Linked DNA regions of Homo sapiens: all the other regions are reported to be linked to region 3. Evidence: microRNA targets listed by miRTarBase, many of them from high-throughput screens and not tested one by one. Region 3 holds a microRNA gene; each other region holds the end of a gene's coding sequence.

Evidence for each region. The annotated mature microRNA hsa-miR-6893-3p reads CCCUGCUGCCUUCACCUGCCAG and lies in region 3 at 3,821-3,842, opposite strand. An mRNA with a match to its seed (bases 2 to 7 or 8) in the 3' UTR can be bound and repressed. Matches are read on the target gene's strand: a 7mer-m8 pairs with bases 2 to 8, a 7mer-A1 pairs with bases 2 to 7 and ends in A, and an 8mer does both.
Region 1: the mRNA of IFNGR2 is a reported target of hsa-miR-6893-3p. Seed matches in the 3' UTR shown: 7mer-m8 at 1,482-1,488.
Region 2: miRTarBase lists DST as a target of hsa-miR-6893-3p. The part of its 3' UTR that is shown has no 7-base or 8-base seed match.
Region 4: the mRNA of KANK2 is a reported target of hsa-miR-6893-3p. Seed matches in the 3' UTR shown: 7mer-A1 at 2,509-2,515.

Annotation. Positions count from the first base shown.
Region 1 is chr21:33,435,620-33,442,727 of GRCh38, forward strand. IFNGR2 (interferon gamma receptor 2) reads left to right here. Exons shown (of 7, transcript NM_005534.4): 7 at 1,209-1,897. The coding sequence ends at 1,343. It also overlaps a transcript of TMEM50B not described here. Among named protein-coding and RNA genes, the nearest start is that of IFNGR2, 36 kb to the left of the region's middle.
Region 2 is chr6:56,453,224-56,460,340 of GRCh38, reverse strand. It overlaps DST (dystonin), which reads left to right. Exons shown (of 104, transcript NM_001374736.1): 103 at 87-210; 104 at 1,074-2,345. The coding sequence ends at 1,336. Among named protein-coding and RNA genes, the nearest start is that of COL21A1, 210 kb to the right of the region's middle.
Region 3 is chr8:144,431,731-144,438,847 of GRCh38, forward strand. It overlaps MIR6893 (microRNA 6893), which reads right to left and starts at 3,889; the gene lies at 3,821-3,889. It overlaps TONSL (tonsoku like, DNA repair protein), which reads right to left. Exons shown (of 26, transcript NM_013432.5): 12 at 6,923-7,005; 13 at 6,741-6,830; 14 at 5,297-5,369; 15 at 5,027-5,190; 16 at 4,828-4,951; 17 at 3,928-4,688; 18 at 3,744-3,820; 19 at 3,287-3,440; 20 at 3,081-3,159; 21 at 2,248-2,549; 22 at 1,858-2,029; 23 at 555-730. TONSL-AS1 (TONSL antisense RNA 1) reads left to right here and starts at 3,438. Exons shown (of 6, transcript NR_109770.1): 1 at 3,438-3,710; 2 at 5,021-5,265; 3 at 5,969-6,016; 4 at 6,498-6,603; 5 at 6,947-7,052.
Region 4 is chr19:11,160,156-11,167,271 of GRCh38, reverse strand. It overlaps KANK2 (KN motif and ankyrin repeat domains 2), which reads left to right. Exons shown (of 13, transcript NM_001136191.3): 13 at 661-3,002. The coding sequence ends at 714. Among named protein-coding and RNA genes, the nearest start is that of SPC24, 7.9 kb to the right of the region's middle. RefSeq lists an enhancer at 526-1,026.

The DNA of each region.
Region 1 (7,108 bases), not on the chromosome of region 3:
CATGCCTGTAATCCCAGCACTTTGAGAGGCCGAGGTGGGTGGATCATGAAGTCAGGAGATCGAGACCATCCTGGCCAACAGGGTGAAACCCTGTCTCTACTAAAAATACAAAAATTACCCAGGCATGGTGGCATGCGCCTGTAGTCCCAGCTACTTGGGAGGCTGAGGCAGGAGAATCACTTGAACCCAGGAGGCGGAGGCTGCAGTGAGCTGAGATCCACGCCACTGCACTCCAGCCTGGCAACAGAGCAAGACTCCGTCTCAAAAAAAAAAAAAAAAAAAAAAAAATTAGCCAGCCGTGGTGGTGCACGCCTGCAATCCTAGCTACTTGGTTGGGAAGCTGAGGCAGGAGAATTGCTTGAACCCAGGAGGCGGAAGTTGCAGTGAGCCGAGATCGCGCCACTGCACTCCAGCCTGGGCGAAAAAGAGACTGACTCAACAACAATAAAAAATTGTTGCCGGGTGCAGTGGCTCACACCTGCAATCCCAGCACTTTGGGAGGCCGAGGCGGGCGGATCACCTGAGGTCAGGAGTTCGAGACAGCCTGACCAACATGGGAAACCCCGTCTCTACTTAAAATACAAAATTAGCAGGGTGTGGTGGTGCATGCCTGTAATCCCAGCTACTTGGGAGGCTGAGGCAGAGGTTGCAGTGAGATGAGATCGTGTCATTGCACTCCAGCCTGGGCAACAACGTGAAACTCCGTCTCAAAAAAAAAAAATTGTTTCATTGTTGAATAAAAAGAAAAATAAGTTATGTCATTGGTGGACAGAATCAACTTATATCTGAATAAAATAACTATACCAATTAAAACTAAAGTAGGCCAGGCGTAGTGGCTCACGCCTATAATCCCAGCACTTTGGGAGGCCAAGGTGGGTGGATCATTTGCGATCAGGAGTTTGAGACCAGCGTGGCCAACATAGTGAAACCCTGTCTCTACTAAAAATACAAAATTAGCCAGGCAAGGTGGTGGGCACCTGTAGTCCCAGCTACTTGGAGGATTGAGGCAGGAGAATCGCTTGAACCTGGGAAGCAGAGGTTGCAGTGAGCTGAGATCACACCACTATACTCCAGCCTAGGCAAGAGTAAGACTCCATCTCAAAAAAAAAATAAAAATAAAAATAAAATAAAAACAAAAACTAAAGTTAAAAGGTCTGGTATACTGAACTGGTAAACTAATTACAATTTTGCTTTCCAACCTCCTCAAGTATTTAAAAGACCCAACTCAGCCCATCTTAGAGGCCTTGGACAAGGACAGCTCACCAAAGGATGACGTCTGGGACTCTGTGTCCATTATCTCGTTTCCGGAAAAGGAGCAAGAAGATGTTCTCCAAACGCTTTGAACCAAAGCATGGGCCTAGCCCACTGGCTCCCTGGAAGAGATCAAGCCATCGGAGCTGCTAGAGTTCTGTCTGGACTTTCCAGAGACCAGTATTCCCTTTTGCTGCCTCTAAAAGGCCTGTCCCTGCAGACATGAGAGACAGCAGGTCTCATGGGGGTGACAAGCTTTTTTTTTTTTTCTTAAAGAATTTTCAAAATCAAATTCCAGAATGATTTTACGGAGATATCCCAGGAAAATTAAGGCTTCTCTTAAACACTAAAAAGGCATGTAATTGCTTGTTAGCAAAATGGATATGACACATCTCTGATACTTTTTTCATTATTGGTTGGGCTGAGCAGTCAGAAGACCTGGTCGTCGTCTTGACTTTGGCAAATGAGCCGGAGCCCCTTGGGCAGGTCACACAACCTGTCCCAGCGAGGGACACCGAGTGGCCCTTCATGTACATCCATGGTGTGCTGGCTTAAAATGTAATTAATCTTGTAAATATACTCCTAGTAATTTAAGATTTTGTTTTTAAACTGGAAATAAAAGATTGTATAGTGCATGTTTTTTAAAGTCTATGTGAAGTGTTTTCTTTATTGTAGCCTATTTTCTGCAGAGTTTCAGCTTTCTAAAATTACTCAATCTAAACTTGTTTTTTCTTAAATAACACCTGCTAGAGCTACTGAGGCCTCATGGGAACTCAGCAAACACTTCCTATGGATGTCACTTGATCCTCCAAAGGTTATAAAGAAGGCCAGGGCCTAGTGCAGTGGCCCACGCCTATAATCCCAGCACTTTGGGAGGCTGAGGTGGGTGGATCACTTGAGGCCAGGAGTTCTAGACCCACCTGGGCAACATGGTGAAACCCTGTCTCTATGAAAAATGCAAAAATTATCCAGGCATGATGACATGCACCTGTAGTCCCAGCTACTTGAGAGGCTAAAGTGGGAGGATGCTTTAGCCTGGGAGGCGGAGGTTACCATGAGCCGAAATGATGCCACTGCACTCCAGCGTGGGAGGCAGAGCGAGACCCTATCTCAAAAAAAAAAAAAAAAAGAGGGCTGGGCATGGTGGCTCATGCCTGTAATCCCAGCACTTTGGGAGGTCAAGATGGGAGGATCGCTTGAGGCCAGGAGTTTGAGAACAGCCTGGGCAACATAGTGAGACCTTGTTTTCACAAAAAATAAAAAATTAGCTAGTCGTGGTGGTGCACACCCGTAGTCCCAGCTACTCAGGAGGCTGAGACCAGAGGATCATTTGAGCCTAGGAGTTAGGAGTTCAAGGCTGCAGTGAGCAATGATTACACCACTACATTCCAGCCTTGGCAACAGAGCAAGAGACCCTGTCTCAAAAATATAAAAGTTATAAGGGGGATTTGCAGAAGGCACATTAGCACTTCATTTATATGTGACAAGTCACACTGTGTTGACCAAGGCAGGGATTTGTGGGCAATAAAGAGAATTAACTGATTAATCAATAGTAATGTTATCTACTGAGCACGCAAGTCATCTGATTGTGTCAGTACTGTCGGGCTCTGTTGTTCAAAGGATATGTATTTAAAATCCATTTATAGGCTGGGCACGGTGGCTCACACCTGTAATCCCAGCACTTTGGGAGGCCGAGGCAGGCAGATCACCTGAGGTCAGGAGTTCGAGACCAGCCTGGCCAACATGGTGAAAGCCTGTCTCCACTAAAAGCACAAAAATTAGCTGAGTGTGGTGGCAGGCACCTATAATCCCAGCTACATGGGAGGCAGTTGGGGCCCTGTACTGCTGGTAAGAAAGTGGCTTTTTTTTTTTCTTTTGAGACAGAGTCTCACTCTGTCGCCCAGGCTGGAGCGCAGTGGCGCGATCTCAGCTCGCTGCAACCTCCACCTCCCAGGTTCAAGCAATTCTCCTGCCTCAGCCTCCCGAATAGCTGGGATTACAGGCGTGCACCACTATGCCTGGCTAATTTTTGTATTTTTAGTAGAGATGGGGTTTCACCATGTTGGCCAGGCTGGTCTCGAACTCCTGACCTCATGATCCACCCACCTTGGTCTCCCAAAGGGTTGAGATCACAGGCGTGAGCCACCGTGTCCGGCAAAAGTGGCTAACTCTCTTAAGTGTTGTGTACCATGCTGTCTGCAGTGGCAAGAGTTAGAAAAACAAGGCCCACTCCCACCCCATGCACACAAGTCTCCCTGTGAAGCATCTGTTGTATGCATTAGGTGCACCTTAAGTAGACAAGTTTGGAGGAAGAAGTTGTAGATAGGAGTTGTAAAGACTTACCTTAGACCGTTCAGGAAATCGGAGACAGAAGAGCTTCTTCTGTTGGGCAGCAGGATGGTGGCCAGCGAGGAGTGGAGGATACATCTATAGCAGGAGAACAGGAAAGAGTTTCAGCCCAGCAGGACAGAGGGCAAATCAACTCTGTTAGGGTAAGTGCATCTGTGCCACCCCATTTATTTATTTAGAGACACAGTCTCACCCTGTTGCCCAGGCTGGAGCGCAGTGGCACAATCTCACTTCACTGCAACCTCTGCCTTCCGGGTTCAAGCGATTTTTGTGCCTCAGCCTCCAGAGTAGCTGGGATTACAGATGTGCGCCACCACACCCAGCTAATTTTTGTATTTTTAGTAGAGATGGGGTTTCACTATGTTGGTCAGGCTGGTCTCAAACTCCTGACCTCAGGTGATCCGCTCACCTCAGCCTCCCAAAGTGCTGGGATTACAGGTGTGAGCCACTGTGCCCAGCCTTAAATAGTATTTTCTGAAATGAAATGCCTCATTCTCCTTAGTAAAATAAATGACTAATTGATGGGATTAGTATTTACACTGTCAAGGCCAGGCGCAGTGGCTCACACCTGTAATCCGAGCACTTTGAGACCCTGAGGTGGGTGGATCATGAGGTCAGGAGTTTGAGACAAGCCTGGTCAACATGGCGAAAACCTGTTTCTATTAAAAATACAAAAATTAGCTGGGCGTGGTGGCTCACACCTGTAATCCCAGCTACTTGGGAAGCTGAGGCAGGAGAATCACTTGAGCCCGAGAAGCGGAGGTTGCAGTGAGCTGACATGGCACCTCTGCACTCCAGCCTGGGCAACAGAGCAAGACTCTGTCTCAAGAAAAATAAAGTCAAGCTAAGTACATTGTCAAAATTTTTGAGTTGGAAGCACTCTTATAAATAATCCGTTGACAGGGCATAATCCATAACCTACTTGCCAAATCAGCCCATTCCCTGTTTTTGTAAAACCCGTGTGCTAAGAATAGCTTTTACATCTTGGAATAGTTAAAGTCAAAAGAAGAATATTTCATCACACATGAAAATTCTATGATATTCAAATTTCACTGTTCATAAATATTTATTAGAACCCAGAAGGTAAGCTGCGTGTAGTGGTTCACACCTGTAATCCCAGCACTTTGGGAGGCTGAGGTGGGCGGATCATTTGAGGCCAGGAGTTTGAGACCAGCCTGACCAACATGGTGAAACACCGTCTCTACTAAAAATACAAAAATTAGCTGGGCATGGTGGTGCATGCCTGTAATCCCAGCTACTCAGGAGGCTGAGCGAAGGGAATTGCTTGAACCTGGGATGCAGAGGTTGCAGTGAGCAGAGATCGTGCCACTGCATGCCTGGTGACAGAGCGAGACTCTGTCTCAAAAATAATAATAAAATAGGCCGGGTGCGGGGGCTCACGCTTGTAATCCCAGAACTTTGGGAGGCTGAGGCAGGAGGGATCATGAGGTCAGGAGTTTGAGACCAGCCTGACCAACATGGTGAAACCCCGTCCCTACTAAAAATACAAAGATTAGCTGGGCGTGGTGATGTGTGCCTGTAATCCCAGCTACTCAGGAGGCTGAGGCAGGAGAATCACTTGAACCTGGGAGGCAGAGGTTGCAGTGAGCCAAGATTGCACCACTGCACTCCACCTGGGCGACAGAGCAAGACTCTGTCTCAAAAAATAATAATAAAATAAAATAACGTCTCTGTCCATAGTGTTTAAATCACATAAAATGGACTTCTGGCAGGGCACGGCGGCTCACACCTGTAATCCCAGCATTTTGGGAGGCTCAGGTGAGCGGATCGCCTGAGGTCAGGAGTTCAAGATCAGTCTGGCCAACAAGGTGACACCCTGTCTCTACTAAAAATACAAAAATCAGCCCAGCGCAGTGGCAGGTGCCTGTAATCACAGCTATTCAGGAGGCTGAGGCAGGAGAATCGGTTGAACCCACAAGGTGGAAGTTGCAGTGAGCCCAGATGACACCACTGCACCTCAACCTGGGCAACAGAGCAAGAATCTGTCTCAAAAAAAAAAAGGACTTCTTGGTACATAACATTTAAAGAAGCCTGCATAGTCACTATGGCCACTATGTCTTTGAAGTGCCACAACAGAGAGAGGCTCTCTGAAAGGAAATGATACTGATTTGGGAATAGGGTATTACAAGGGGAACACGTGTGCCAGAGTAAACTATGTACATATTTAGGAAGGTGAAGGAAAACAAAGGTTCTTAAAGGAAAAAATGAGGATTAGATCACTGTTTTAAGATAATTATCCTTGGCTATAAGGATCAATAGCAAGGGGGATGCCATTCCAAGGTTAGACAGGCAGTTGTTGGGCAGATGTCCTCATAGAAGTGTTTGTTGTGTAAGGCGGTGAAGGGCTTTGTGCAAGGTTGAGATTTTTGCAGTCTTTTGTGATCATTTTTATTTATTTATTTATTTAGAGACAGAGTCTTGCTCTGTCACCCAAGCTGGAGGGCAGTGATGCAATCACAGCTCACTGCAACGTCTGCCTCCTGGATTCAAGAAATTCTCCTGTCTCAGCCTCCTTAGTAGCTGGGACTACAGGCATCCGCCACCATGCCTGGCTAATTTTTTGTATTTTTAGTAGAGATGGGATTTTGCCATGTTGCCCAGGCTGGTCTTGAACTCCTGACCTCAAGTGATCCACCTGCCTCAACCTTCTAAAATGCTGGGATTACAGGCATGAGCCACCACGCCCGGCCTTGTGATCATTTTTGTTATCAAGCATTTTTGCATGAGAATCCTTCATGGCCTTCCCCAGCTCTATTTGTCAGGGTTTTTTATTTGTTTGCTTGTTTGTTTGAAGCACAAGTGACTCCATTTTGATTCTGACAACTTCCACACTATGCAGTCACATCTCTGAGGCGCCCAGAGCCCTTCAAAATATATTTGCTGTTTGCCAAATAGTCTCTATTTGAGATGAGAACATCCCCAGCTGTCCTTCTGTTTGATGAGAAGTGAGACTCCACCCCAGCAGCTTCCGGAGATGCAGTCATGCCTCCCCACCCTTCACTGCCACTCCCAGCCTCCCTTGAGACTCAAGGACTGTCCCACGGGAATGAAGTGAAAGTGACGTCTTTCTCCTTGTTTCCAGTCTGTGGTGAGGGAAAACAGCTGGCTACGCTTGAGAGGGTATGGAAACTGGTCAGAGTGGTTACTTGGGACCTGGGGCCTCAGAGCCACCCGTTGCTAAGGAGAGGACTCTGGTCAGGGCAACTTGCCAATGCTCTAGGAATGACACCTAGACATTCCTAAAAAATGATAGCCTAAAAATTCATCCCATTGTAGAAATACAGGCAGCACTAGCTTCTCTGGGCCCCTCAGTTATCAAAAAAAGAGGAGGGAGGCAGACCCTCAGGGTTACTTTACATCCATATACCTAGCTACAACATAAACATCAAATGATATGTGGCCAGGCGCGCTGGCTCATGCCTGTAATCCCAGCACTTTGGGAGGCAGAGGCAGGCAGATCACTTGAGGTCAGGAGTTCGACACCAGC
Region 2 (7,117 bases), not on the chromosome of region 3:
CCACCCATATGTAAAGAAGTGGTGTCAGTGGAATATCATGGTACAGGAGCAATATTTTGAAATGTCTTGTTGCTGGTTAAATACAGGGAACGCCAATACAAGGAAGCAAGCTTCGACTTCCAGGATATTTATCAGGGAAAGGCTTCCACTCTGGGGAGGACAGTGGCTTGATAACAACTGCAGCTGCCAGAGTCCGAACACAGTTTGCTGGTGAGTGTGGTGCCTTTCTTTTTTCAATGGCTTTTGCAGCATGGTCATCTGAGGATTAAAGTCCCTTTTCCTCCTCATTGGGGAAGAAATTACAAATTGACCCTGAGGTAGTCTTAAAATGATATGTAGCCCCAGTCCTCCAAAAGTTGGGGATAAAGTGAGTCATGGGTGCAAGTGTCTAAAAGTGTCCAAGAAAGATGAAAGAATTACTGTACAACAGAGGAAAATATACAGTGGTATTCTACCCCTTCAAGCTGAAAGATTTTGGCTCTTCTGCCAGCTCAGCGATTGCACAGGGCCCTGTTTTGGGGTGGTTGGAAGAACCCAGCCACACTGAGCCTCACACCAGTGTAGCTCACATTGCTTCGCAAAATAATGAACCTACTAATCTCTGGGTTCTGAGCTCAGCAAGCAAGAAGCCTCTTTAAAGTTTCCAATCTCATCTGTTGAATTCCTACATTCTTGGAGTTACCTATTCTTGGGCAAGACTTAAACCTGTCTTGTTTGTTCTATGTTTGCATCACACGCATCCCTGGAGGCATAATTTAAACTTTAGAAAGCACAATCTTAAAGGATAGGTATATTCCTTATGTCTGTTTGCAATAAATGGAATCCTGTTTTAAGTAGGGGAAGCCGAAACTTACCTTGTAGTTGGAAATCTAGCCTTTTCTATATTATGTCTACTTAGAGTAAGCCTGCATACCCTTGTGTAATAGAGAAAGGCTGTGAATCCACAACTGTTTTCTGAGTGCCTACTACACACCAGGAAAAAAAGTTAAGATTAAAGGTGGCATCGGGTTTCAAAAATTAGTTGCAGATGGACCCAATAATAAGGGTGAGCTGTCTCTACCTTCTTTCCTCAGATTCCAAGAAGACTCCCAGCCGACCAGGAAGTCGAGCTGGAAGCAAAGCTGGCAGCAGGGCCAGCAGCCGCCGAGGCAGTGATGCATCAGACTTTGACATTTCAGAAATCCAGTCCGTGTGCTCAGATGTGGAAACTGTCCCCCAGACACACAGACCTACACCCCGAGCAGGTTCTCGGCCATCCACAGCGAAGCCTTCAAAAATCCCCACGCCCCAGAGGAAATCACCTGCCAGCAAATTGGACAAGTCCTCAAAGAGATAGTGCAATTGGTTCTACCAAGGCCCTTCCTTGAGCATTTATTATTTAAGTTTGAACGATGTAAAATATGGTGTAGAAATTCTTGTGAAATATTGCAAGAGGCGAGTTTAAAATTCTGCAGATGGCCTTATTTGTGTATTTGTCTTTTTATTTTATCTGTATAATTTTTTTTGTCAGATATTCTGGGGTTAAAGTCACATCATATGTGAGGAGGAAAAGTTTAACATGAACTAACATTTCTGCACTGTAACGTGCCGGGCACACACTAAACTCAGTTACTGTACCTACAGGTAAGTCTACATCCTCTCTGACAGCCACAGCACTACATCAATCCCTGACGTTAGGGATACCTCATGACATTTTCCTGTTTTTATGGAAACTCTGAGAAGCTGAATGATACATGCAGGGGATATTTTTTGAGATGATTTAAATGTAAACCAAAAGATGGAAGACAAAAAGACAAACACACCCACACGCAGTCTTTGCAGTATCTGACAGAGAACTCACAGGAAGTTACTTCAAGCACTTGCCAGTACTATGATATTCAAGTACCTTGCAGCATTTCTCTGCCATTGCTTTCAATGAGGCCAGAGGCATCCTGGATATTAGACCTATTATACTGTAAGAATATAAGTATAAAGTGCGTTCATATACATGTGAGGTTTTCTTTTGCTTGAGTGGACAGTAGCACCTGTATCATTGAACTCATTTTGTATCAGAGCAATTTTGCTTGCAGAAAGCTATGAAATAAAACACGTCCCTTAACTGCATTGCTATGGAATTAATTTTTTTTCCCCAGGGAAAACTAGTGTATTTTTTTATGAGCAATATCAATTTGGAGTGACCAAAAGATACTTAAAAATGGGTTTATTTTGATTTCTCATCTGAAATAATCATGTTCTGGTATTATATCTATCTATATTTAATAAATATATACATTTTAATTTATTATGTGTACTCACATACTATAGAAAGATATTAGTATGCATTTAATAAAACATATTCACTTGAATATATGGAATACCTGATTATTTAAAGTGAACTTCTTCTATTATTTGTTTTAAATAAAGGTTATATGTATGATATATGTTTACTAAGAAACAAATAGGGTAAATTTGGGGGACATCAAAAACAGGGAGTTATAATAATGTTAACCACTCTTTCAACAAATATTTCTAATAAGTATTAGCCATGCACCAGCCATTGTAAGTGACATGAAACTATAAGGTTCCTGCCCTCCCCTCTTCAAGAGGGAATCAGTTAATAAGTCACTAAAAAGCAAGGGATGTGTGGCAGGATTACAGATTTAATTAAGGTAATATAGTAGTATTCTTCTGGCCTCTGTACATTTAAAAGTCAAATTGTAAAATTTTCCTGAATATGAAAATAGTATCAGATATCCTCAGAAGGATGGCAGGTTGTAACTTTAGGTATGAGGGTCCCAACATTCTGCATAACTTTGTGGATTTGCTGTAGCAAATGTCACTGATGGTGTTCAGATTCAAGGGAACATTATTACATTTTTCTTTCTTGGCCTTTTCAGTGGAGGCCAACACTGAAGAGCCTGGAGTTTCTATTGGCATAAATTAGGTGCTATTTTTAAGCAATAGTAATCCCTTCTTTGTCCAGGCATGGGTCTCAGGTGGGAGCCCTTGATGAGAAGGGGAATTCTAACCTATGAGATCACATGCTATTTAGTTCATGCATTTGATTATTAACATGTCATCTTAGAAGGCAATTGAAATTGTTTTTATTCCTTTAGTGCTTTGCATATGATCACATTTCCACTTCAAAGACAAATTTAAGGCAATGATTTTTATCTCAGTCTGTTTCTATGCTACCCCTCCGAAAGAGCTAGGGGTTTTTCTTTTTAAGTAGTAAAATAAGCTTTTTGGAAAAGATAAGTGGTTTAAAATAAGAGAAGTCTTAAGGAACTGCTCCCAGTTGTCAGTATTTGCCCCAGGTGAGCTTTTCAAACTTTGACATGATGCCTACTCATTTCTTTCCTCTTGTGCTAATAGTCCTAGAGCCTCAGGCTGACTTCTCTAGTGTCCTGTAAGTTTCAGTTAATGTAACAGAAACCTCTTCCCCACCCTACACACATTCCTTCTCTTTTCTTTTTCTCTTTCTTTTTTTCGTTTTTTTTTTTTTTTTTTTCTTTAAAAAAAAGAACACTACAGTGAATCTCAACTCTAAAAATCTTAATTGGAAAAATTGAATCTTAAGCATTAGGGAAGTTGAATCGTGGACTTTTTTTGTTTTAAAAATCAAAGCTCCTAATTCGCATGTACTGCTACCTTCTTTGGAAATAGTGGACTGTCCTCTTTGACATCCGTGCAGAAGTAGATGGGCCTGGCCAAGTCTCGGATATAGGTGGGAGAGTTTGGGAAGTGCCCCCATGGCTGTCCGGGATTGACCTGTAAAATGAAAAGGAGGCGGAGGAGAAGAAAGGATCTTGTTTCCTTTTTTGGATCATTTTAAAAGTTGCTTTCCGTATTTGTAGTAAGGGAAATTGTAATGAGATACAGTTATCTATTCCTTTTTGACAAGGTGCTTTGAAATGTGTGTTTTTATTGTTAAATGGTGATCTGATACCACCAAACAGTACATTTGCCATGCCTGCTTGTCTGTGTATGTCTGATGCCACTGCCACTGGGGTCCCACAAAGAAGGCAAAGACACTTGAGCTTTGTCTTTTAGTATAATACTTTAGTAACTAAGGTCCTTTCAGGCATGTTGAGGATGGACTTGTCAGTTACCAAAATCTGCTTGGAAGTCAGTAGAGTAAAGGACAAGGTGTTTGGGCAGGAAATAGTTTGTATGACTATTTGAAATATCTGACTTAACCTACCAAACTCTGCAACTTTGGTTGATTTTATGTAACTCTTAACGTCTATGTAGATGTTGAGTGTCTAGCTAGGGTGAAGTATAACAAAAATAGGTTTCTTTTTTTTCTTGCTACTACTTCTCATGTGCTAAGTTAAGAATATATGTAAAGCAAAGTGTGTTAAGGGAATAATATTAGTTTACCCACATTTTTATCATACTTCATTATTGCAAATTAAAAGACTTTAACAGAGAAGAAAATAAAATAGAGGTTAAGAAGTTTTCAACAATTTCCCCCAAATAAAAATAAAACATTCTTTTAGAATGTTACTAATCTTAAAGTACAGTTATTTTTGCCCCAGCGCAAAGACTAGGAAATGTAGTTCCCACAGCCTTAGACTCCAACTTCTATGCCAATGGCCTCTAGACTTCTTGGTTGGCATCTTCTTATCAGTAAAAGTTTTTCTGTGCAAACACCCCCATATATATATATATTAATTTATCCCAAGATATTATTTGCACATATTTTATCATTAGCTAATTTCTCAGGGCTCACTCTAATCTTAAAATTTATCCTAACAACATTGGTGTACATCCTTAGTTCAAATAGTCTTCATAATTATTTTGGCCAAGTTTTTGCCAAATCAGATGAGACTCTTTCTGGTTTAACTCCTGGTGTGGCTGAGTTTTGCCAAATCAGATGAGATTCTCTCTGGTTTAACGCCTGATATTTAACTCCTTTGTTCTAGGAGAAGCGTTGTCTCTGCCATTTTTCTTATTGCTTGTTTGTTTCTTGCATTATAAACATCTTAAATCCACGGTTCTGTTGCAGGGATCTGTTTAAGCCTTTTTTTTTTTTGTAAAGATTATTTAATTCAGAAGAGTTAATAAAAATCTGTACATTCACCCAACTTGACATAAATAAACTTCGGTTTGCTGCATGCTAAAAGCAACCCAAAGAGTGTGGGAACTGTTGGGACTTCCACTCTGCCCTTGGGTCACCTAAGCTACAGATCGTGAGAAGATGCAAACGATGTCGATGTCACTGGAGAGATGGTAGCAGTGTCAGTCTGTAGTAAATGTTAGTAAAGGTAATTTCCTCCTCTTTTAAGATGAAATGTAAATATAAATAGACATTTTCTTCCAACATTCTATGAAGTTACTTTACATAATCTAATTTTAGGGATCATTGTTCTATACTATTTTCTTCTTTCTGCCTCTTCTCAACCATCTTTTTCCAGAGAATGGAAGTATGCTGTAAAGTTTCTTCCTTTCTCCTCTGATACTAGTTTTGCAAGGGCATGCACACCTGTGCTAGTGGTTATATCACTGATTGCCGGTTCTCTGAAAATTCCAGTTGAGGGAGGCTGAGGGGACATACTAACATTCTTGAAGCCTCAGTTCTAGTTCCAGCCCTTGTTACCTCTCACTTGTATTACTACAACGACCATCTGTTGATTTCCTCATTTTCAATGTCTTCTCCTCTAGACATCAGCTTGGAGGAACTGGTCTTATGGGGAAGGACGTGCCTTTTGATATGAAGGACTGGAGGAAAGGGAGATTGAAATGGGAGAAGAGACATTGAGGGAGTTACCCTGCACTCTTTATTTATCTCAGTAAATTGGAAGACAGATTTTTGACTTGACCAGAGAAGGTTAGAAGTAGCCAAGGCCCTGGACTGATAGTTATCCTGGCCTCCAGTGTATGGCCTGGTTTAGGAAGAGAGGTGACAGAAAGTTCATTGATCTACAGTTGGTTTCTTCAGTCAGGCTCAACAGAGCAATGGAAGGAAGCGGGGGCTCTAGGATGGGCTTTTACCTCAGAAGCAGGTTTTAGGGTACCCAGAGGAAAGGATTTGGGAGGAAGGCACACCGTGGGTGAGTATTTGGGTCAGAGTGGTAGAAAGCTAGAACACTATGCTTGCACACACAGGAGTGTGTATATGATCAAGAGTGACTTATATTTGGGGCATTATCTAAAATTTGCAAGAATGTGAACTTCGGGAGCCTCAGCGTTTTTTTAAATATTAGTCTTAGCTGTTCCAAGTCTTCATTGATTTTTATTGTGCTTATAGCAGAATCTGCATGGAGAAAGCAATAATAGTCCCTAGAGTGAGGGAGAGAGTACAAGAGCCTGCCTTTCAGCTGCAGTTGGTTGTGCTTCAAAGCCCCAAGTAGGCTTAGCGGTATGTGTGTGTGTAGCTCTGGCTTTTCAAGGAGGCAGAAATATAGTGTTTTGGTATATACTTTCAGAAATGTCTCTGGGCATGAGTTAAAAATGAATTAACATAAAGACCATTTCTGAAAGGAGGGCCAACCAGGAAGACAAATGTACATAGCTGTGTTTTTAATTATCCAGTGTAGGAAAATTTGTTTCAAAAATAACCAGCCAATGGACATATGTCCCGGTCAGTAGTCTCGTCACAGCATACTTGCTTGAGAATGGACCAGTGAATTCAGAGGAATATAATAGGCTTGGAGCAATGTTTTCTTAGACTTTACAGTGCCATATCTGATCATGGATTAATTTTGAGTTGTTTCTCTTGGGCAACCTTTTGTGTCTTAGCCACTTCATTATGCTCATAGTGATTTTTTGAAGCCCTACATTTATGTGTCAATTTTGGTTTATAAAGCTCTAATTCTCATACAAGGTTTTCAACCAGCCAATGAAATAGTAAATAAATATCACTTGAATTGTATAAATAATTTTAATGAAGCTAGAGAGGTTTTTATTTGTCCAGGATCACACAGCTAGAAAATGACTGAGTAGATAGATCTTTTCAGGCTGAGACCAATGATCATTCCACTGCCCCTCACCCTTATACCAGGGCTTATGCATTCTTTTCTAAAAAGATGGTAACTTCATAAGGAAGACATGTTCATGGCCTCTTTCAGGAAGCTATACCACATCTGGATTTTCCAGAGTAGCAAAATTCATATTAAGATAGTTGTAAGCTCTT
Region 3 (7,117 bases):
TCTTGATCTCCTGACCTCGTGATCCGCCCGCCTCGGCCTCCCAAAGTGCTGGGATTACAGGCGTAAGCTACCACGCCCAGCCTGTTTTTTTCTTTTTCTTTCTTTTTTTTTTTTTTTGAGACGGAATCTCGCTCTGTCACCCAGGCTGGGTGCAATGGTGCAATCTAGGCTCACTGCAACCTCTGCCTCCCGGGTTCAACCAATTCTCTGCCTCAGCATCCCGAGTAGCTGGGATTACAGGTACCCGCCACCACGCCTGGGTAATTTTTGTATTTTTACTAGAGACAAGGTTTCACCATGTTGGCCAGGCTGCTTTTGAACTCCTGACCTTGTGATCCACCCCCTTCGGCCTCCCAAAGTACTGGGATTACAGGCGTGAGCCACCGCGCCTGGCCCCCCAGCTGTTTTTTCTAAACCTCCAAACCTCTAACTCTCTCTGTAGAGCCCCTCAGCGAGTTCAGCCCGAATCTGGGGAGAGGCGAGCTCCTCCCAGCAACCCTGGGACCTTTGGCCTCTGAGGCTCAGTATTTTCTGGGTTCTTCCCCACCTCGTACCTTGGCCAGGTATCGGAATACAGGCTCCATGAGGTCCGAATCACCCTTGCCGGCTGCCACGGAGCTGAGCTCTAAGTGCAGGAGGGTGCCGGCGGGCAGGCTCTGCAGGGTCCTGGCCAGGGCAGGGGCTCCCAGGGCGTTGTAGGACAGGGACAGGGTCTTCAGGTGCTCAGCATCTGCACCGGGGCCAGAATCCGTCAGCCCCACGTGGCCACAGCCCTGTACCCACCCCAAGTTCTGGGCCCAGAACCCTCAGGACCCCTTTGGGGAAACCACTACCGCAGTGCTCGCAGGGTGGGGTGGCAAGTGCAGAGGCAAAGGCTCTCGCCCAGATTCTCCCAGCTGGGAGGGCGGGGCCAGACTTCCAAGCTCGGCTGCCCCCAGTTCTGGACAACTTGCCCTCTCCCACCCCACAACCACACGGTCCTGGGCCACATGCCTCTGCACAGTGGGGGTGCCAGGGGAGTGCACTGACCATTGCTGCCCCCCTTACACTCCCCCTGGATGACACCCAATTCCCAGCCTCTTGGCACTGGGACCCCAGTCTCTGCAGCCTGAGTGGGCTCACAGTGGAACTGCCTCAGGCGAACAGCACTCAGCTGGCGAGCACGGGATGGGGACCACAGGACACTAGCTGCCCGGACTCTGCTCTCGGTGTGTCCTGCGGGGGTCAGCCTGGCTGGGTGGGCACCAGACGCCCCTCGGAGGCAGACCCTGTACCCACACATCCATCTATTGCTCCCAGGTGCCAGGCCCTCCCGGAGAGCCAGGTCTGGCATCCCAGGCCCCTAGACGTTGTTTGTTTCGTTTTTTTGACACGGAGTCTTGCTCTGTCGCCCAGGCTGGAGTGCAACGGCGCGATCTCGGCTCACTGCAAGCTCCGCTTCCCGGGTTCATGCCATTCTCCTGCCTCAGCCTCCTGCGTAGCTGGGACTACAGGCACCGGCCACCACGCCCAGCTAATTGTATTTTTAATAGAGACGGCGTTTCACCGTGTTAGCCAGGATGGTCTCGATATCCTGACCTCGTGATCTGCCCGCCTTGGCCTCCCAAAGTGCTGGGATTACAGGCGTGAGCCACTGCGCCCGGCCTAGACGCTTTTTTCTTAAGGGATGGGGTCTCACTATGTGGGCCAGGCTTTCCTGGAACTCTTGGCTCAAGCGATACTCCCGCCTCAGCCTCTCAAGTAGCTGGGACCACAGGTGTTGCCCCTGTGTGCCCAGCCTGGGCCCCCTCTGAAAGTCCTGGAAACCCTCAATGCCCCAGGGCTAGGGAGTGGACAGGGAGTGCCTGGTCAGCTCACCTTGGAAAGCACTACCCAGTGCTGTCTGGTGGCTCAGAAAGAAGCTGGGGCCGAAGCCACACGCCTGCAGGCGCAGGGTGCTGAGTAAGGGGCAGGCGTGCAGGAGGGAGGCCAGGGACTGGCCACAGCCGTCCCCCAGGGGGTTCATGCTTAAGTCCAGCTCCTCCAAACTCTGTGGAAGACACAGGCTGGCAGTGAGCCCCCAGCAGTCCCACGGACAGGGTCCCCCTTGGGGCTTGGCTTGGCAGTCTCTTCCCCACCTTGCCTGGCATAGCCTATTACAGCCGGGCACTGGCTGGCTCTCCCAACTACCCTAGACCACCCAGGGACCTGCAGAATGGGAACCCCAACTCCCCGCTGTTGAGGGCCTGCTGCTCTCTGTGCCTATACCTGCAAGGTGGCTTGGCCTGGGAGCCCCATGGCAAGCTGGCGCAGGCCTTCGGGACCCAGGTGATTGGAGGAGAGGTCAAGGAGGGCCAGGCTGGGCATGGTGCCCAGGGCAGCCACCAGCTCAGCCACACACTTGTCCCCCAGCCGGTTCCCTGCCAGGCGCAGCTCCCGGAGTGCTGTGTGCAGCTTGAGGGCCCGCAGCAGGGGTGTAAGCTGGGCCTGGTCCAGGGCCAGGGAGCAGGCGCTGAACGAGAGGCCCAAGCCCTGGAGCTCCACGGCCTGCAGCACCTGTTGGTGCTCCCCTGCGGGAGGGATGTGATGTCACCAGGGTAAGGCCGGCCCTTTCTGCCCTCTGAATCCCAGAGGGCAAACCAGGCAGCCCCTTTTCAACAGCCCCAGGGGTCACCCACCAGACTTGCTGTAGAGCCCACTCGCACATGCCTGTGGGTCTAGCACTGTGAGGCCCTGGGGGCCGGGGTGGGTCTGCAGCACCCTGAGCTCCACCAGTCACTGCCAGATTCCACACCCCCCGGGACAAGCTTTCTGGGAAGCTTCCCCAGCAGCTCCCAGCCCATGCCAGGCCCTCCTCCTTGGGTTTGACTTTCCAGGCTTTCGGCTGCTTTTTGCCATCTCCCTGTCAGCAGATCATGGGGGCTGAGGGCTGTCCTCTCCCTTCCACCCACACATCCAAGTGCAGGACACAGCACCCACCAGGCTGGGGGAGGTGCACCCCAAAACACCCGAGGCCCAGGAATGAACCGGGCTGGTGGAGCCTGTGTGCCCAACCCCCTTGTACGACCTCACCCAGAAACTGCAGCTCTCCTGGCCCTCACCTTGCCCCAGGCTCTGGCAGGCCCTGCGGTAGCGGTCAGTCAACGGGGGCAGGTCCCACGAAGTCACCTCAGCCAACACCTGGAAGGCACCGTCATGAGCCACCTGGGGGCTCCCCCGGCTCACCTCATCATTGCTCTGCAGCCATGAGCCACCCGGGGGCTCCCGGTGCCTGAGGCCCTGGCTCCCCCTCCGCTCTGCGGCTCACCTCGTCATTGCTCTGCAGCACATCAGGGATGAGGTCCTGTGGGGCCAGCAGGGCCCCCTCTTTCCGTAGGGTGAGCCTGGGCAGCAGCCCGCAGGTCTGGTAGTAGCGCTGGGCCGCCTGCTCGGCCAGCCAGGCCACAGAGTGGGTGTCACTGCTGCAGGGACAGAGGCGCTGCTGCTGCTGCCTGCACACAGCCGGGGTAATGCCCCAGGGACCCGCCATCCCTGCCCAGGGCCAGAAGCCCCCTCAGCTGCTTCTCCCATTCCCAGGTAGCCGGCCCCTCCTCTCCCTGCAGCCCAGCACACCACCAGCCCCTCTGCTATTCCTGGGGGCCACAGGATCCTCCTGGAACACACCAGGGAGCCCTCGTCACACGCCCCACCCTGACATGCAAACACGAGCACCCTGGCATGGAGCTGCACAGGTGGGCTGCGGGGTAGGGCAGGCGATGCCTCACCTGTGTGGGACAGGGATGAGGAAGAGATGATCCTGAACTTGAACTCGAACCCGGATGGGAGGGGGCGGGGCCGGACCCTGGCAGGTGAAGGCAGCAGGGCTGAGTCAGGAGCCACAGTGGGCTCCACCCTACACCTGCCTGCCCGGAGTGGGGAGAGGGCTCTGCTCCAGGTCTGCATACCCACCAAGGGCTGGCCTGCCGCAGAGCTGTCCCCACTGGGCTCTGAGACCCTGGGGGTGCTGGGGCTCCCTGGAGGTTCTGAAGCCAGGCTGCTGGGCCCTGCGTTAACTGGCGCACTGCAACTCTGCATGCAGGTCAGGCGGACCTGCTTGGCTCGGGCACGGGGCCTGCTCTCCTCACTGTCCGACCCAGAGGTACTACTGGGCCTGCGGTTGTCTCCAGTGCCCCGGGGGCGGGGCCGGCGGCTGCGGGTCAGGGGCATGTCCAGCTCCAGCCAGTCCCCGGCCAGGCACTCCTCCTCCGGGATGAGCGCTGCCTGGGGGGCAAGGGCTTTGCTGTGGCCCCGCGGTGGGCCAGGCCCCAGCCGGCTCTGAGCACTGCCCACACCCCGGATGGCTGCCTGGTAGGCTGCCCGGCTGGTGCTGGCTGTGGCTGCTTCCCTGTTGCTGGCGGGGCCAGGCGTCCAGGCTGCCACCCGTTGTGCTGTGGCCGAGCACCGAGGCCTCTTCTGGGACGGCCGTGCGGGGCCTGCGCTGTCCTCGCCTTCTGAGCTGCTGCTGCTGCTGGCTGGCCCATGCCTGCTCCTCCGAGGCCTGGCCATGGCTGGTGCCGCCTGCCCTGGGGAGACCCTGACATGGGCCTGAGAGGCCTCTGGGAGTCTAGTGCTATTAGAGGGGGGTTCTGGGCAGGGGCTCAAAGGAGGAGAGGTCTCGGGGTCAAACAGAAGGCTGCTTGGGGTGTGGAAGGCCTGGGAGCTGTGGGGATCTGTGGGAGAGAGAATGCGTGTTGAGGCAGGGGCCCGGCACCTCCCGCTCCACCTGTGATGGAGCATCTCCCGAAATCAGGGCCCGGGGACTCTCAGCGTAGGCACAGCAACCCCAGGGACAAGGGACGCCCTGCTTGCCTTGGCCCGAGGCAGCCGCCTGGAGCAGCATCTCCATGGCCCTGGCCTTCTGCCGCGTCTCCAGGTCCAGGTCCCTGCGGTACAGCTTCACCCACTGCTGCAGCGTCTCCAGCGGGCTGAGGCCCTGTGTGGCATCAGTTGAGCAGGGGCACAGCAGCCCCCATAACCTCGCCCTTGCCCTCTGCCCCACCAGGCTCACCTTTCGAGTGCGGAGGGTGACGGACGCCCCCCGTTCAAGCAGCAGCTCAGCCACCTCGAAGTGGCCACAGTTGAGGGCATCGTGGAGGGGGGTGATGCCTTCGCAGCCCTGGCCACCTGGGTCGTCCACTGCGGCCCCGTGGTCCAGCAGGAAGCGGACAATTTCTGCAGACCAGGAGACGTAAGCCCAGCTCCCGATGCCCCGCCAGGACTGACTCTTCGCCCCACGTGTCCACCAAGGTGCGCCAGGCTCCTTCTGTCCCTTGCTCACCTAGATGCCCGTAGTTGCAGGCCTCGTGCAGAGGTGTCCAGCCACAGTAGTCCCGAGGGTTAAGGGGGTGGCCCTGTGACCAAGGACAGGAAGGAGCCTGGCCCTGTGTACCTCACAGCCTGGCCCCAGCCCCGTGAGCTCTGCAGCCTAAGCTGAGCCCAGGGCCTCAGTCTTAGAGCCCAGAGCAAGTCCGTGGCCCTGCCCTCTCCTCCTCCGGCCTAGGTGTCACCAGTGAAGGACATGCTTCCCCCTGAGACAGGTGGACCAGCCACAGCATATCCTCCGCCTCTGTGCCTGCCCGGTCCCCTTGTGGGGAGACAGTGCACCTGGTCGCAGGGGCATGAGGCAGGCGGGGCGGGAAGGTGCCCAGATCTCAGCCCATGGGCTAGCCCCCATCCTGGCCAGGCTGACCAACTTAGCTGTAACACAGATGCATACCACACAGCAGGTACCCCATTTTTTTTTTGAGACCAGCCAGGCTGGTCTCAAGCTCCTGACCTCGTGATCTGCCCACCTTGGCCTCCCAAAGTGCTGGGATTACAGGTATGAACCACCGCGCCCAGCCTGGGCACCCCATTTTTTTGTGTTTTTTTTTGAGACAGAGTCTCGCTCTGTCACCCAGGCTGGAGTGCAGCGGCGCAATCTCATCTCACCGCAACCTCCGCCTCCCAGGTTCAAGCGATTCTCCTGCCTCAGCCTCCCGAGTAGCTGGGACTACAGGTATGTGCCACCATACCCAGCTAATATTTTTGTATTTTTAGTAGAGACAGGGTTTCACCATGTTAGCCAGACTGGTCTCAAACTCCTGACCTCAGGCAATCCGCCCGCCTCAGCCTCCCAAAGTGCTAGGATTATAGACATAAGCCACTGTACCCGGCCTGTGGCTTTTCTTCTGAGACAGGGTCTTGCTCTGTCACACAGGTTGGAGTGCAGTGGCAAGATCATGGCTCACTGCAGCCTCCACCTCCTAGGCTCAAGCAACCCTCCCACCTCAACCTCCAAAGCAGCTGAGACTACAGGCACACGCCATCACATCCACCTAATTTTTAAATTTCTTGGAGACAAGGTCTTGCCAGGGTGCCCAGGCTGGTCTCGAACTCCTGGGCTCATGTGATCTGCCTGCCTTGGCATCCCAAAGTGCTGGGATTACAGGCATAAGCCACCCCGTGCAGCCTCCGCTTTTTAAATTTTTTTGAAACAGGGTCTCACTGTGTTGCCCAGGCTGGAGTGCAGTGGCATGATCGCGACTCCTGCAGCCTCAATCTCCCTCCCAGGATGAAGTGATCCTCCTGCCTCTAGGACCACAGGCAAGTGCCACCATGCTTGCTAAGGGGCCCCATTTTGAAGATGAGGAAGTTGAGAGTTACAGAGATAGGGGATCCGGCACAAACGCACAGCTCCTCCATGCTAGGCAGCCTGTCCCACGTCCCAGAGCGGGGCCCACCTGCCTCACAAGGTCCTGGACGCGGCGCAGCTGGCCCTCGATGCAGGCTCGGTGCAGCAGGGTCTCCCCCATGTCGTTTCGCCGGTTCCACTGTGGGCACAGCCAACCCAGCACAGGGCAGGGGCGTGAGGAGCTGGCAGGGCTGCTGAGCGGGGTGGGTGGGGGCAGGGCACTGTCCTCACCTTGCTCCCCTTCCGCCGGCCCAGGTGGCCCTGAAGCTCCTCGTCCTCCTCCAGCTGCGGGGTCAGGCCATCGGTGTCGTCCTCTGGAACAGAGCCAAGCCCACCCCAGGGGAGTCCGTGGGAGGTGAAGGTTAGCAGCCCCCACCCTGCTGCAAGCTCCCCAAACTCCCAGGTACAAAGGAGCCAGAGACGGGA
Region 4 (7,116 bases), not on the chromosome of region 3:
CCAACATGGAGAAACCCCATCTCTACTAAAAACGCAAAATTAGCCGGGCGTGGTGGCGCCTGCCTGTAATCCCAGCTACTAAGGAGGCTGAGGCAGGAGAATCACTTGAACCCAGGAGGCAGAGGTTGCAGTGAGCTGAGATCATGCCATTGCACTCCAGCCTAGGCAACAAGAGTGAAACTCTGTCTCAAAAAAAAGAAAAGAAAAAGCCAGGGTCCTCTCCAAAGCCCACCAGGCCCTGCACAACCACCCTCACCTTCCCCACTACTGTTTCTCTCCCCCTCTAGCCACACTGGCCTTATTGCCACACCCCTCTGCACTTATCCCAGGGCCTTTGCACGTGCTGTTTCCGCTGCCTGGAATGCTCTTCCCTGCTCGCTGGCTCCTTGATGCCGTTCACAGTCAGCTGAGAACTCACCCTCCCTGACCAGCCACTGTCCACCCTCATTCCTTTGCATCCCTCACCCCCGGTGAACATCCTCAACCACAGTCATGAGTTTGCTTCTTCAAGGCGGTGCCCCCAGATCGCCACCTCCTTGGGGCCAGGGGCCACGCCTCCCTCCTGCTTACCCATCATATCTACCAGGCCAGCCACCACGTTGGCGCCTCGGGGGATTGGAAAGGATCCCAAACAAAAAGAATTCTGCTTCTCTGTTTCAGTTTGCCCCAATGTCAGATGACGAGAGCCCTACATCATCCTCGGCAGAAGAGTAGCCGTGAGGGAGGCGGGGACCAGCCAGACCGGGAGCAAACCGTCCCTTGTCCCCGTCTCCTCCCTGTTCCCGTTCCTCCCTGGCCCACCCCACTCACACTCCCCAAGGCCCACGGCTCAAAGGCAAGCGAGCTCTCCCTCTGCTTCCCTGGGGGAGCCCCGACGGCCACAGGACTCCAGCTCCAAGTGGGTTTTCTTGGCTCCCCTGTTCAAAGTGGCCACAGCGCAGACCGAAGCAAAATTCTTGTATACATTGGCGCCAGGGCTGATGCTGGGGTGTGGGTTTTATGAAGAACATTGAGAACAATCAGCTGGTAATTATGGATGGAGGAAGAGGGAGAGGAAAAAAATATTGTATTTTTGAATCATTGTTGCAGGAGGGGGTGGGAATCTTAGGATTTGTTGCCAGATTTGAAAGTCACTGGAACTTGCATATTTTCATTTTAATCCTAAGTGTTATTACGCACCAGTTGGGGTTCACCCTTCATCCCCCACATTTAATTGTCTGATATAGAATAGTGTTGTGTCCACTGCCCCGCTAGACGGCTTTCTTAGGGGAATTTTCTTCTGGTTGTTTCACAAGACAGATTCTGTCCTTGTCACCCGGGACAGAAAACTCAGTCTTTTCACCCTCATTCAGATGAAGGGACTCAGGACAGGCTCTGTGACTTACAGGGACCCAATCAATTCACAATGAGAAATTACCGGCCAGGCGTGGTGACTCACGTCTGTAATCCCAGCACTTTGGGAGGGCAAGGCAAGAGCTTGAGCTTGAGCCTAGACGTTAAAGACCAGCCTGGGCAACACAGCAAGACCCATCTCTACAAGAAATTTAAAAACTAGCCAGGCGTGGTGGTGCGCGCCTGTAGTCCCAGCTACTTGGGAGGCTGAGCCCTGGAGGTCGAGGCTACAGTGAGCTATGATCACACCATTGCACTTCAGCCTGGGCGACACAGCGAGACCCTGTCTCAAGAAAGAAAAGAAAAAGAGACAAATTACCCAGAAACCCCTCCCTTCCCCACATGGAGGCCTTGGCAAATGTTAATTTTCCTAGAAAATCCTTCAGACCTGAAGACGCAGGAAAAGAATCTGGCTCTCAGGGTGGCTTCTGCGTCCCCGCCGCCAGGCCCCAGACTATGGTCACAGGGCCGTCCTGTTCCTCCCCGGGACTCCAGAATTTCTCTCCTCAAAGGAAAGAAAACAGGGCATGCGCTTGTTGGCAAAACGCAGGGCCGGCTCCCAAAAACCCCATGTGTGTACGATTAAAAGTTGGCCGTCCCCAGGCCTCCCAGCGCAAACTTCAAGAGACAGGGCTTTGCTGAAAACCAAACATGGGCCAGCTGGGCTTTTTAACAACCTAGAGACTTTCCGGAGCTGCCTGGAACAGAGCCTGCGGGAAACGGGGCTTGCCAGAGACACTCACAGTTTCCTTCATGGCCTGTTTTGGTCCCCTAAGAATCTCCACATCATTGTCTTTCTTGTGCCTTTTCCTTGGTGAGCAACAGAAAGGGAAGGGTTCCAAGCCTCTAAAAATGTGCTTTGTGATCAGGAGTGCGCTCCAAACCAAATACGCGCGCTGCCCTTTCGAGGCCAGTGAGCTCAGCCTCCAAGGCTTTAAAGCCACATTTCAGCAAGAGAAAGCGCTGAGAGCTCGCAGGTTCATTAAAGAAGGCAAAGCACTGGTTTCTCTCCTTAGAAAAGTAGGTTTCTTGGCTTGATGTAGACTGGCTTGCTTTGATTTTTAGTGAAGGGAATGTACGTAAAACAAAATAGGGCTTGGCTGGTCAAAGGAGACAAGCAGGATGGATGGATGGATGGATGGATGGATGGATGGATGGATGGATGGATGAATAGATAGATGGTGTTTGCATGTAAATTGCAGAGAAAACAAAACCAAAGCTGATTGGAAACAATTAATTGTGGGTGTCTGAGGGGGAAGGTCGCAGCTTTGGGCAGCTTTGAGAAGCGGTACAAGAGTTCTGTGCCTGTGTGTCCAGCCCTGGAGCCAGCCAGTGCATTTATTTTAAGCTCTTAGAAGCAACTCCTTGGCCCAGGAATGCGTGACCCCTGAGATGGGTCCACGCATCTCTCTACACTTCCTTCTCTCCGTGGGATACTGGACTCGTGCCTCTGCGCCCATTCTCTTCTCACGCATATCCATGAGCTTTAATTTCACTTTCTGATCACGGTACGTCCATAAAGCCAGTATTACACTTAAATGAAGTATTCTTTTTTGTAATCGTTTTTTTTAGAAGGTAAACAAATTTAATAAAGCTACCAATAATGTTGATGATTCTGTGTCTTTTCTTTTTTCGCTGTGCTCCCTTTTAAGCTTTAAGATAGATATCTTTCCTTTTTTTTTTCTTTTTTCTTTTTTTGAGACGGAGTTTTGCTTCTCGTCACCCAGGCTGGAGTGCAGTGGCGCGATCTTGGCTCAGTGCAACCTCTGCCTCCTGGATTCAAGTGATTCTACTGCCTCGATTCTCCCAAGTAGCTGGGACTACAGGTGCCCACCACACTCGGCTAATTTTGTATTTTTGGTAGAGACGGGGGTTTCGCTATGTTGGTCAGGCTGGTCTCAAACTCCTGACCTCAGATGATCCACGCGCCTCAGCCTCCCAAAGTGCTGGGATTACAGGTGTGAGCCACCACTTTTTGTTTTTGGAGAGTCTCACTCTGTCTCCCAGGTTGGAGTGCAGTGGTGCGAATCATAGCTCACTGCAGTCTCTACCTCCAGGGTTCAAGCGATCCTCCCACCTCAACCTCCCGACTAGCTGGGACCACAGGCTGCGCCACCACCCCTGACTTTTTGTTGTTGTTGTTGTTGTTGATACGGAGTCTCCCTCTGTCTCCCAGGCTGGAGTGCAGTGGTGTGATTTAGGCTCACCGAAACCTCCGCCTCCTGGACTTAGGCAATTCTCCTGCCTCGGCCTCCCAAATAGCTTGGATTAGAGGCACCCACCACCACACCCAGCTAATTTTTGTATTTTTAGTAGAGATGGGTTTTCACTATGTTGGTCAGGCCAGTCTTGAACTCCCGACCTTGATCAAGTGATCCACCCGCCTCGACCTCCCAAAGTGCTGGGATTACAGGCGTGAGCCACTGCGCCTGGACTAATTTTTAAATTTTTTGTAGAAACGGGGTTTTGCTATGTTGCCCAAGCCACTCTCCCACCTCGGCCTCCCAAAGTGCTGGGATTACACACGTGAGCTGCTGCAAATCTCTTTTTCAAAATGGACTTATTTTGGAGAGTGTTCAAAGCTACAGAACAGTTGCAAGAATATCACAGTAAACACCTTCATGCTCTGTCCTAGACCAGCACCCAACAATAGTGTAGCCGCTAGCTACATGTGGCTATTTTCATTTAAAAGTACATGAGGCCGGGCGCGGTGGCTCGCGCCCGTAATCCCAGCACTTTGGGAGGCTGAGGCAGGTGGATCACCTGAGGTCAGGAATTCAAGACCAGCCTGGGCAACATCGTGAAACCCTGTCTCTACTAAAAATACAAAAAATTAGCTGGGCATGGTAGCGGGCATCTGTAGTCCCAGCTACTCGGGAGGCTGAGGCCAGAGAATCACTTGAACCCAGGAGGCGGGGGTTTCAGGGAGCTGAGATTGCCCCACTGCACTCCAGCCTGGGTGACAGAGCAAGACTCCATCTATAAATGAATGAATGAATTAATTAATTATAATTAGCAGGCTTGGTGGCTTGTGCCTGTAGTCCCAAGCTACTCAGGAGGCTGAGGCGGGTGGGAGGATCACTCGAGGCCAGGAGTTCGAGGCTGCAGTGAGCTATGATTGTCCCACTGCACTCCAGCCTTGGTGACAGAGTGAGACCTTGTTTCTAAAAAAAAAAAAAAAAATCTTAAGTAAATGAATTATGCCTGGCGCGGTGGCTCACGCCTATAATCCCAACACTTTGAGAGGCTGAGGCAGGTGGATCATTTATGTTTGAGGCCAGCCTGGCCAACATGGTGAAACCACATCTCTACTAAAAATAGAAAAAAATTAGCTGGGCATGGTGGTGCATGCCTGTAATCCCAGCTACTGGGGAGGCTGAGGCATGAGAATCACTTGAACATGGAAAACGGAGGTTGCGGTGAGCTAAGATTGCAGCACCGTACCCCAGCCTGGGCGACAGTGAGGCTCCAACTCAAAAATAAGTAAATAAATAAAGTCAATGAATTATAATTAGTTCTCGATAGCTTTACGTGGTTGGTGGCTACTGTATTGACTTGCAGAGATACTGAATATTGCCATCGTACAAAGTTTTGTTGAACACCTGCTGTGAACACCTCAGGAAAAAAAAATCAATCTTTTTCTTTCTTTTCTTTTCTTTTTTTTTTTTGAGACAGGGTCTCACTCTGTTGCCCACCAGGGTAGAGTGCAGTGGTGCGATCATAGCTCACTGCAGCCTCAACCTCCGGGGCTCAAGCAATCTTCCCACTTCAGCCTCCAGAGTGGCTGGGACTACAAGTGTGTGCCACCATGCCTGGCTAATTTTTTTTATTTTTTGTATAGACGGAGTCTCTCTATGCTGCCCAGGCTGGCCTCAAACTTCTGGGCTCAAGCGATCTCCCCACCTCAGCCTCCCAATGTGCTGGGATCGTAGGCATGAACTACTATGCCTGGCCTAAAACTTGGCTCTTCGGTGACTTTTGTATTCTAATGCCAAATAATTTATAGCGATTTATTATAAAAGTCAAAATTCAGCCGGGCACAGTGGCTAACCCCTGTAATCCCAGGACTTTGGGAGGTCAAGGTGGGCATCACCTGAGGTCAGAAGTTTGAGACCAGCCTGATCAATACGGTGAAACCCTGCCTCTACTAAAAATACAAAAATTAGCCAGGTGCATTTGCACACGCCTGTAATCCCAGCTACTCAGGAGGCTGAGGCATGAGAATCGCTTGAACCTGGGAGGCACAGGTTGCAGTGAGCCGAGATTGTGCCACTGTGCTCCAGCCTGGGCAACAGGGAGACTCCGTCTCAAAAAAAAAAGTTAAAATTCGAGCCGGGTGCAGTGGTTCACGCCTGTAATCCCAGCACTTTGGGAGGCCAAGGCGGGTGGATCACCTGAGGTCGGGAGTTCGAGACTAGCCTGACCAACATGGCGAAACCCTGTCTCTGGCCGGGCGTGGTGGCTCACGCCTGTAATCCCAGCACTTTGGGAGGTCAAGGCGGGTGGATCACGAGGTCAAGAGATCGAGACCATCCTGGCCAACATGGTGAAACCCCATCTCTACTAATAAATACAAAAAATTAGCTGGGTGTGGTGGCGTGTGTCTGTAGTCCCAGCTACTCGGGAGGCTGAGGCAGAAGAATGGCGTGAACCCGGGAGGCAGAGTTTGCAGTGAGCCAAGATCGCACCACTGCACTCCAGCCTGGGTGACAGAGTGAGACTCCGTCTCAAAAAACAAAAAAAAGGCCAGGAGTGGTGGCTCACGCCTGTAATCCTAGCGCTTTGGGAGGCCAAGGCGGGCACATCACGAGGTCAGGAGCTCGAGATCATCCTGACTAGCACGGTGAAACCCCATCTCTACTTAAAAAAATACAAAAAATTAGCCAGGCGTGGTGGTGGGCACCTGTAGTCCCAGCTACTGGGAGGCTGAGGCAGGAAAATGACGTGAACCCGGGAGGCGGAGCTTGCGGTGAGCCGAGATCGCACCACTGCACTCCAGCCTGAGCGACAGAGTGAGACTCCATCTCAAAAAGAAAAAAATAAACCTTGTCTTTACTAAAAATACAAAATTAGCCGGGTGTGCTGGCACACCCCTGTAATCCCAGCTACTCAGGAGGCTGAGGCAGGAGAATTGCTTGAACCTGGAAGGTGGAGGTTGTGGTGAGCCGAGATCACGCCATTGCACTCCAGCCTAGGCAACAAGAGAGAAACTCCATCTAAAAATAAAAATAAAAATTCAAACAATACAGCAGTGTTTAGTCCTTGCAGCATGCCATAATCCCACTTGGTAGGAATACCATTGTCAACAGTTTGGAGCATCTCCTACCAAATCTTTTTCTAATATATTTGGTCTTAATTTTTTTTTACAGTTCTTTTTTCTTCAGGTATAAAATGAATACATTCTGTGCACAAATGGTGCACAAAAGTGTACAGTTCCTTCCATGGCTTTTTTGCAAACGGCACCCCCAAGTTGCCGGCACCAGAACTGGAAAAGGAATATCATTGGCCCTAGCAGCCCACGGGCCCCTCCCCTCAGATCTCCCAGCGGTAATCATATCTCCTGACTTCTCATTTCCTCTGTTTATCCACTAGGCTGTTCAGTCAGGAGATAACAGAAGGTTTTTGGAAGACCCAGAAATGTTATGCTAAGGAGTGTATTTCTAGGCAGAAGGTCCATTACTCGTGTCAGTTTCCTCTGGCTTTGTGAGCCAAGAAGGGTTCTTA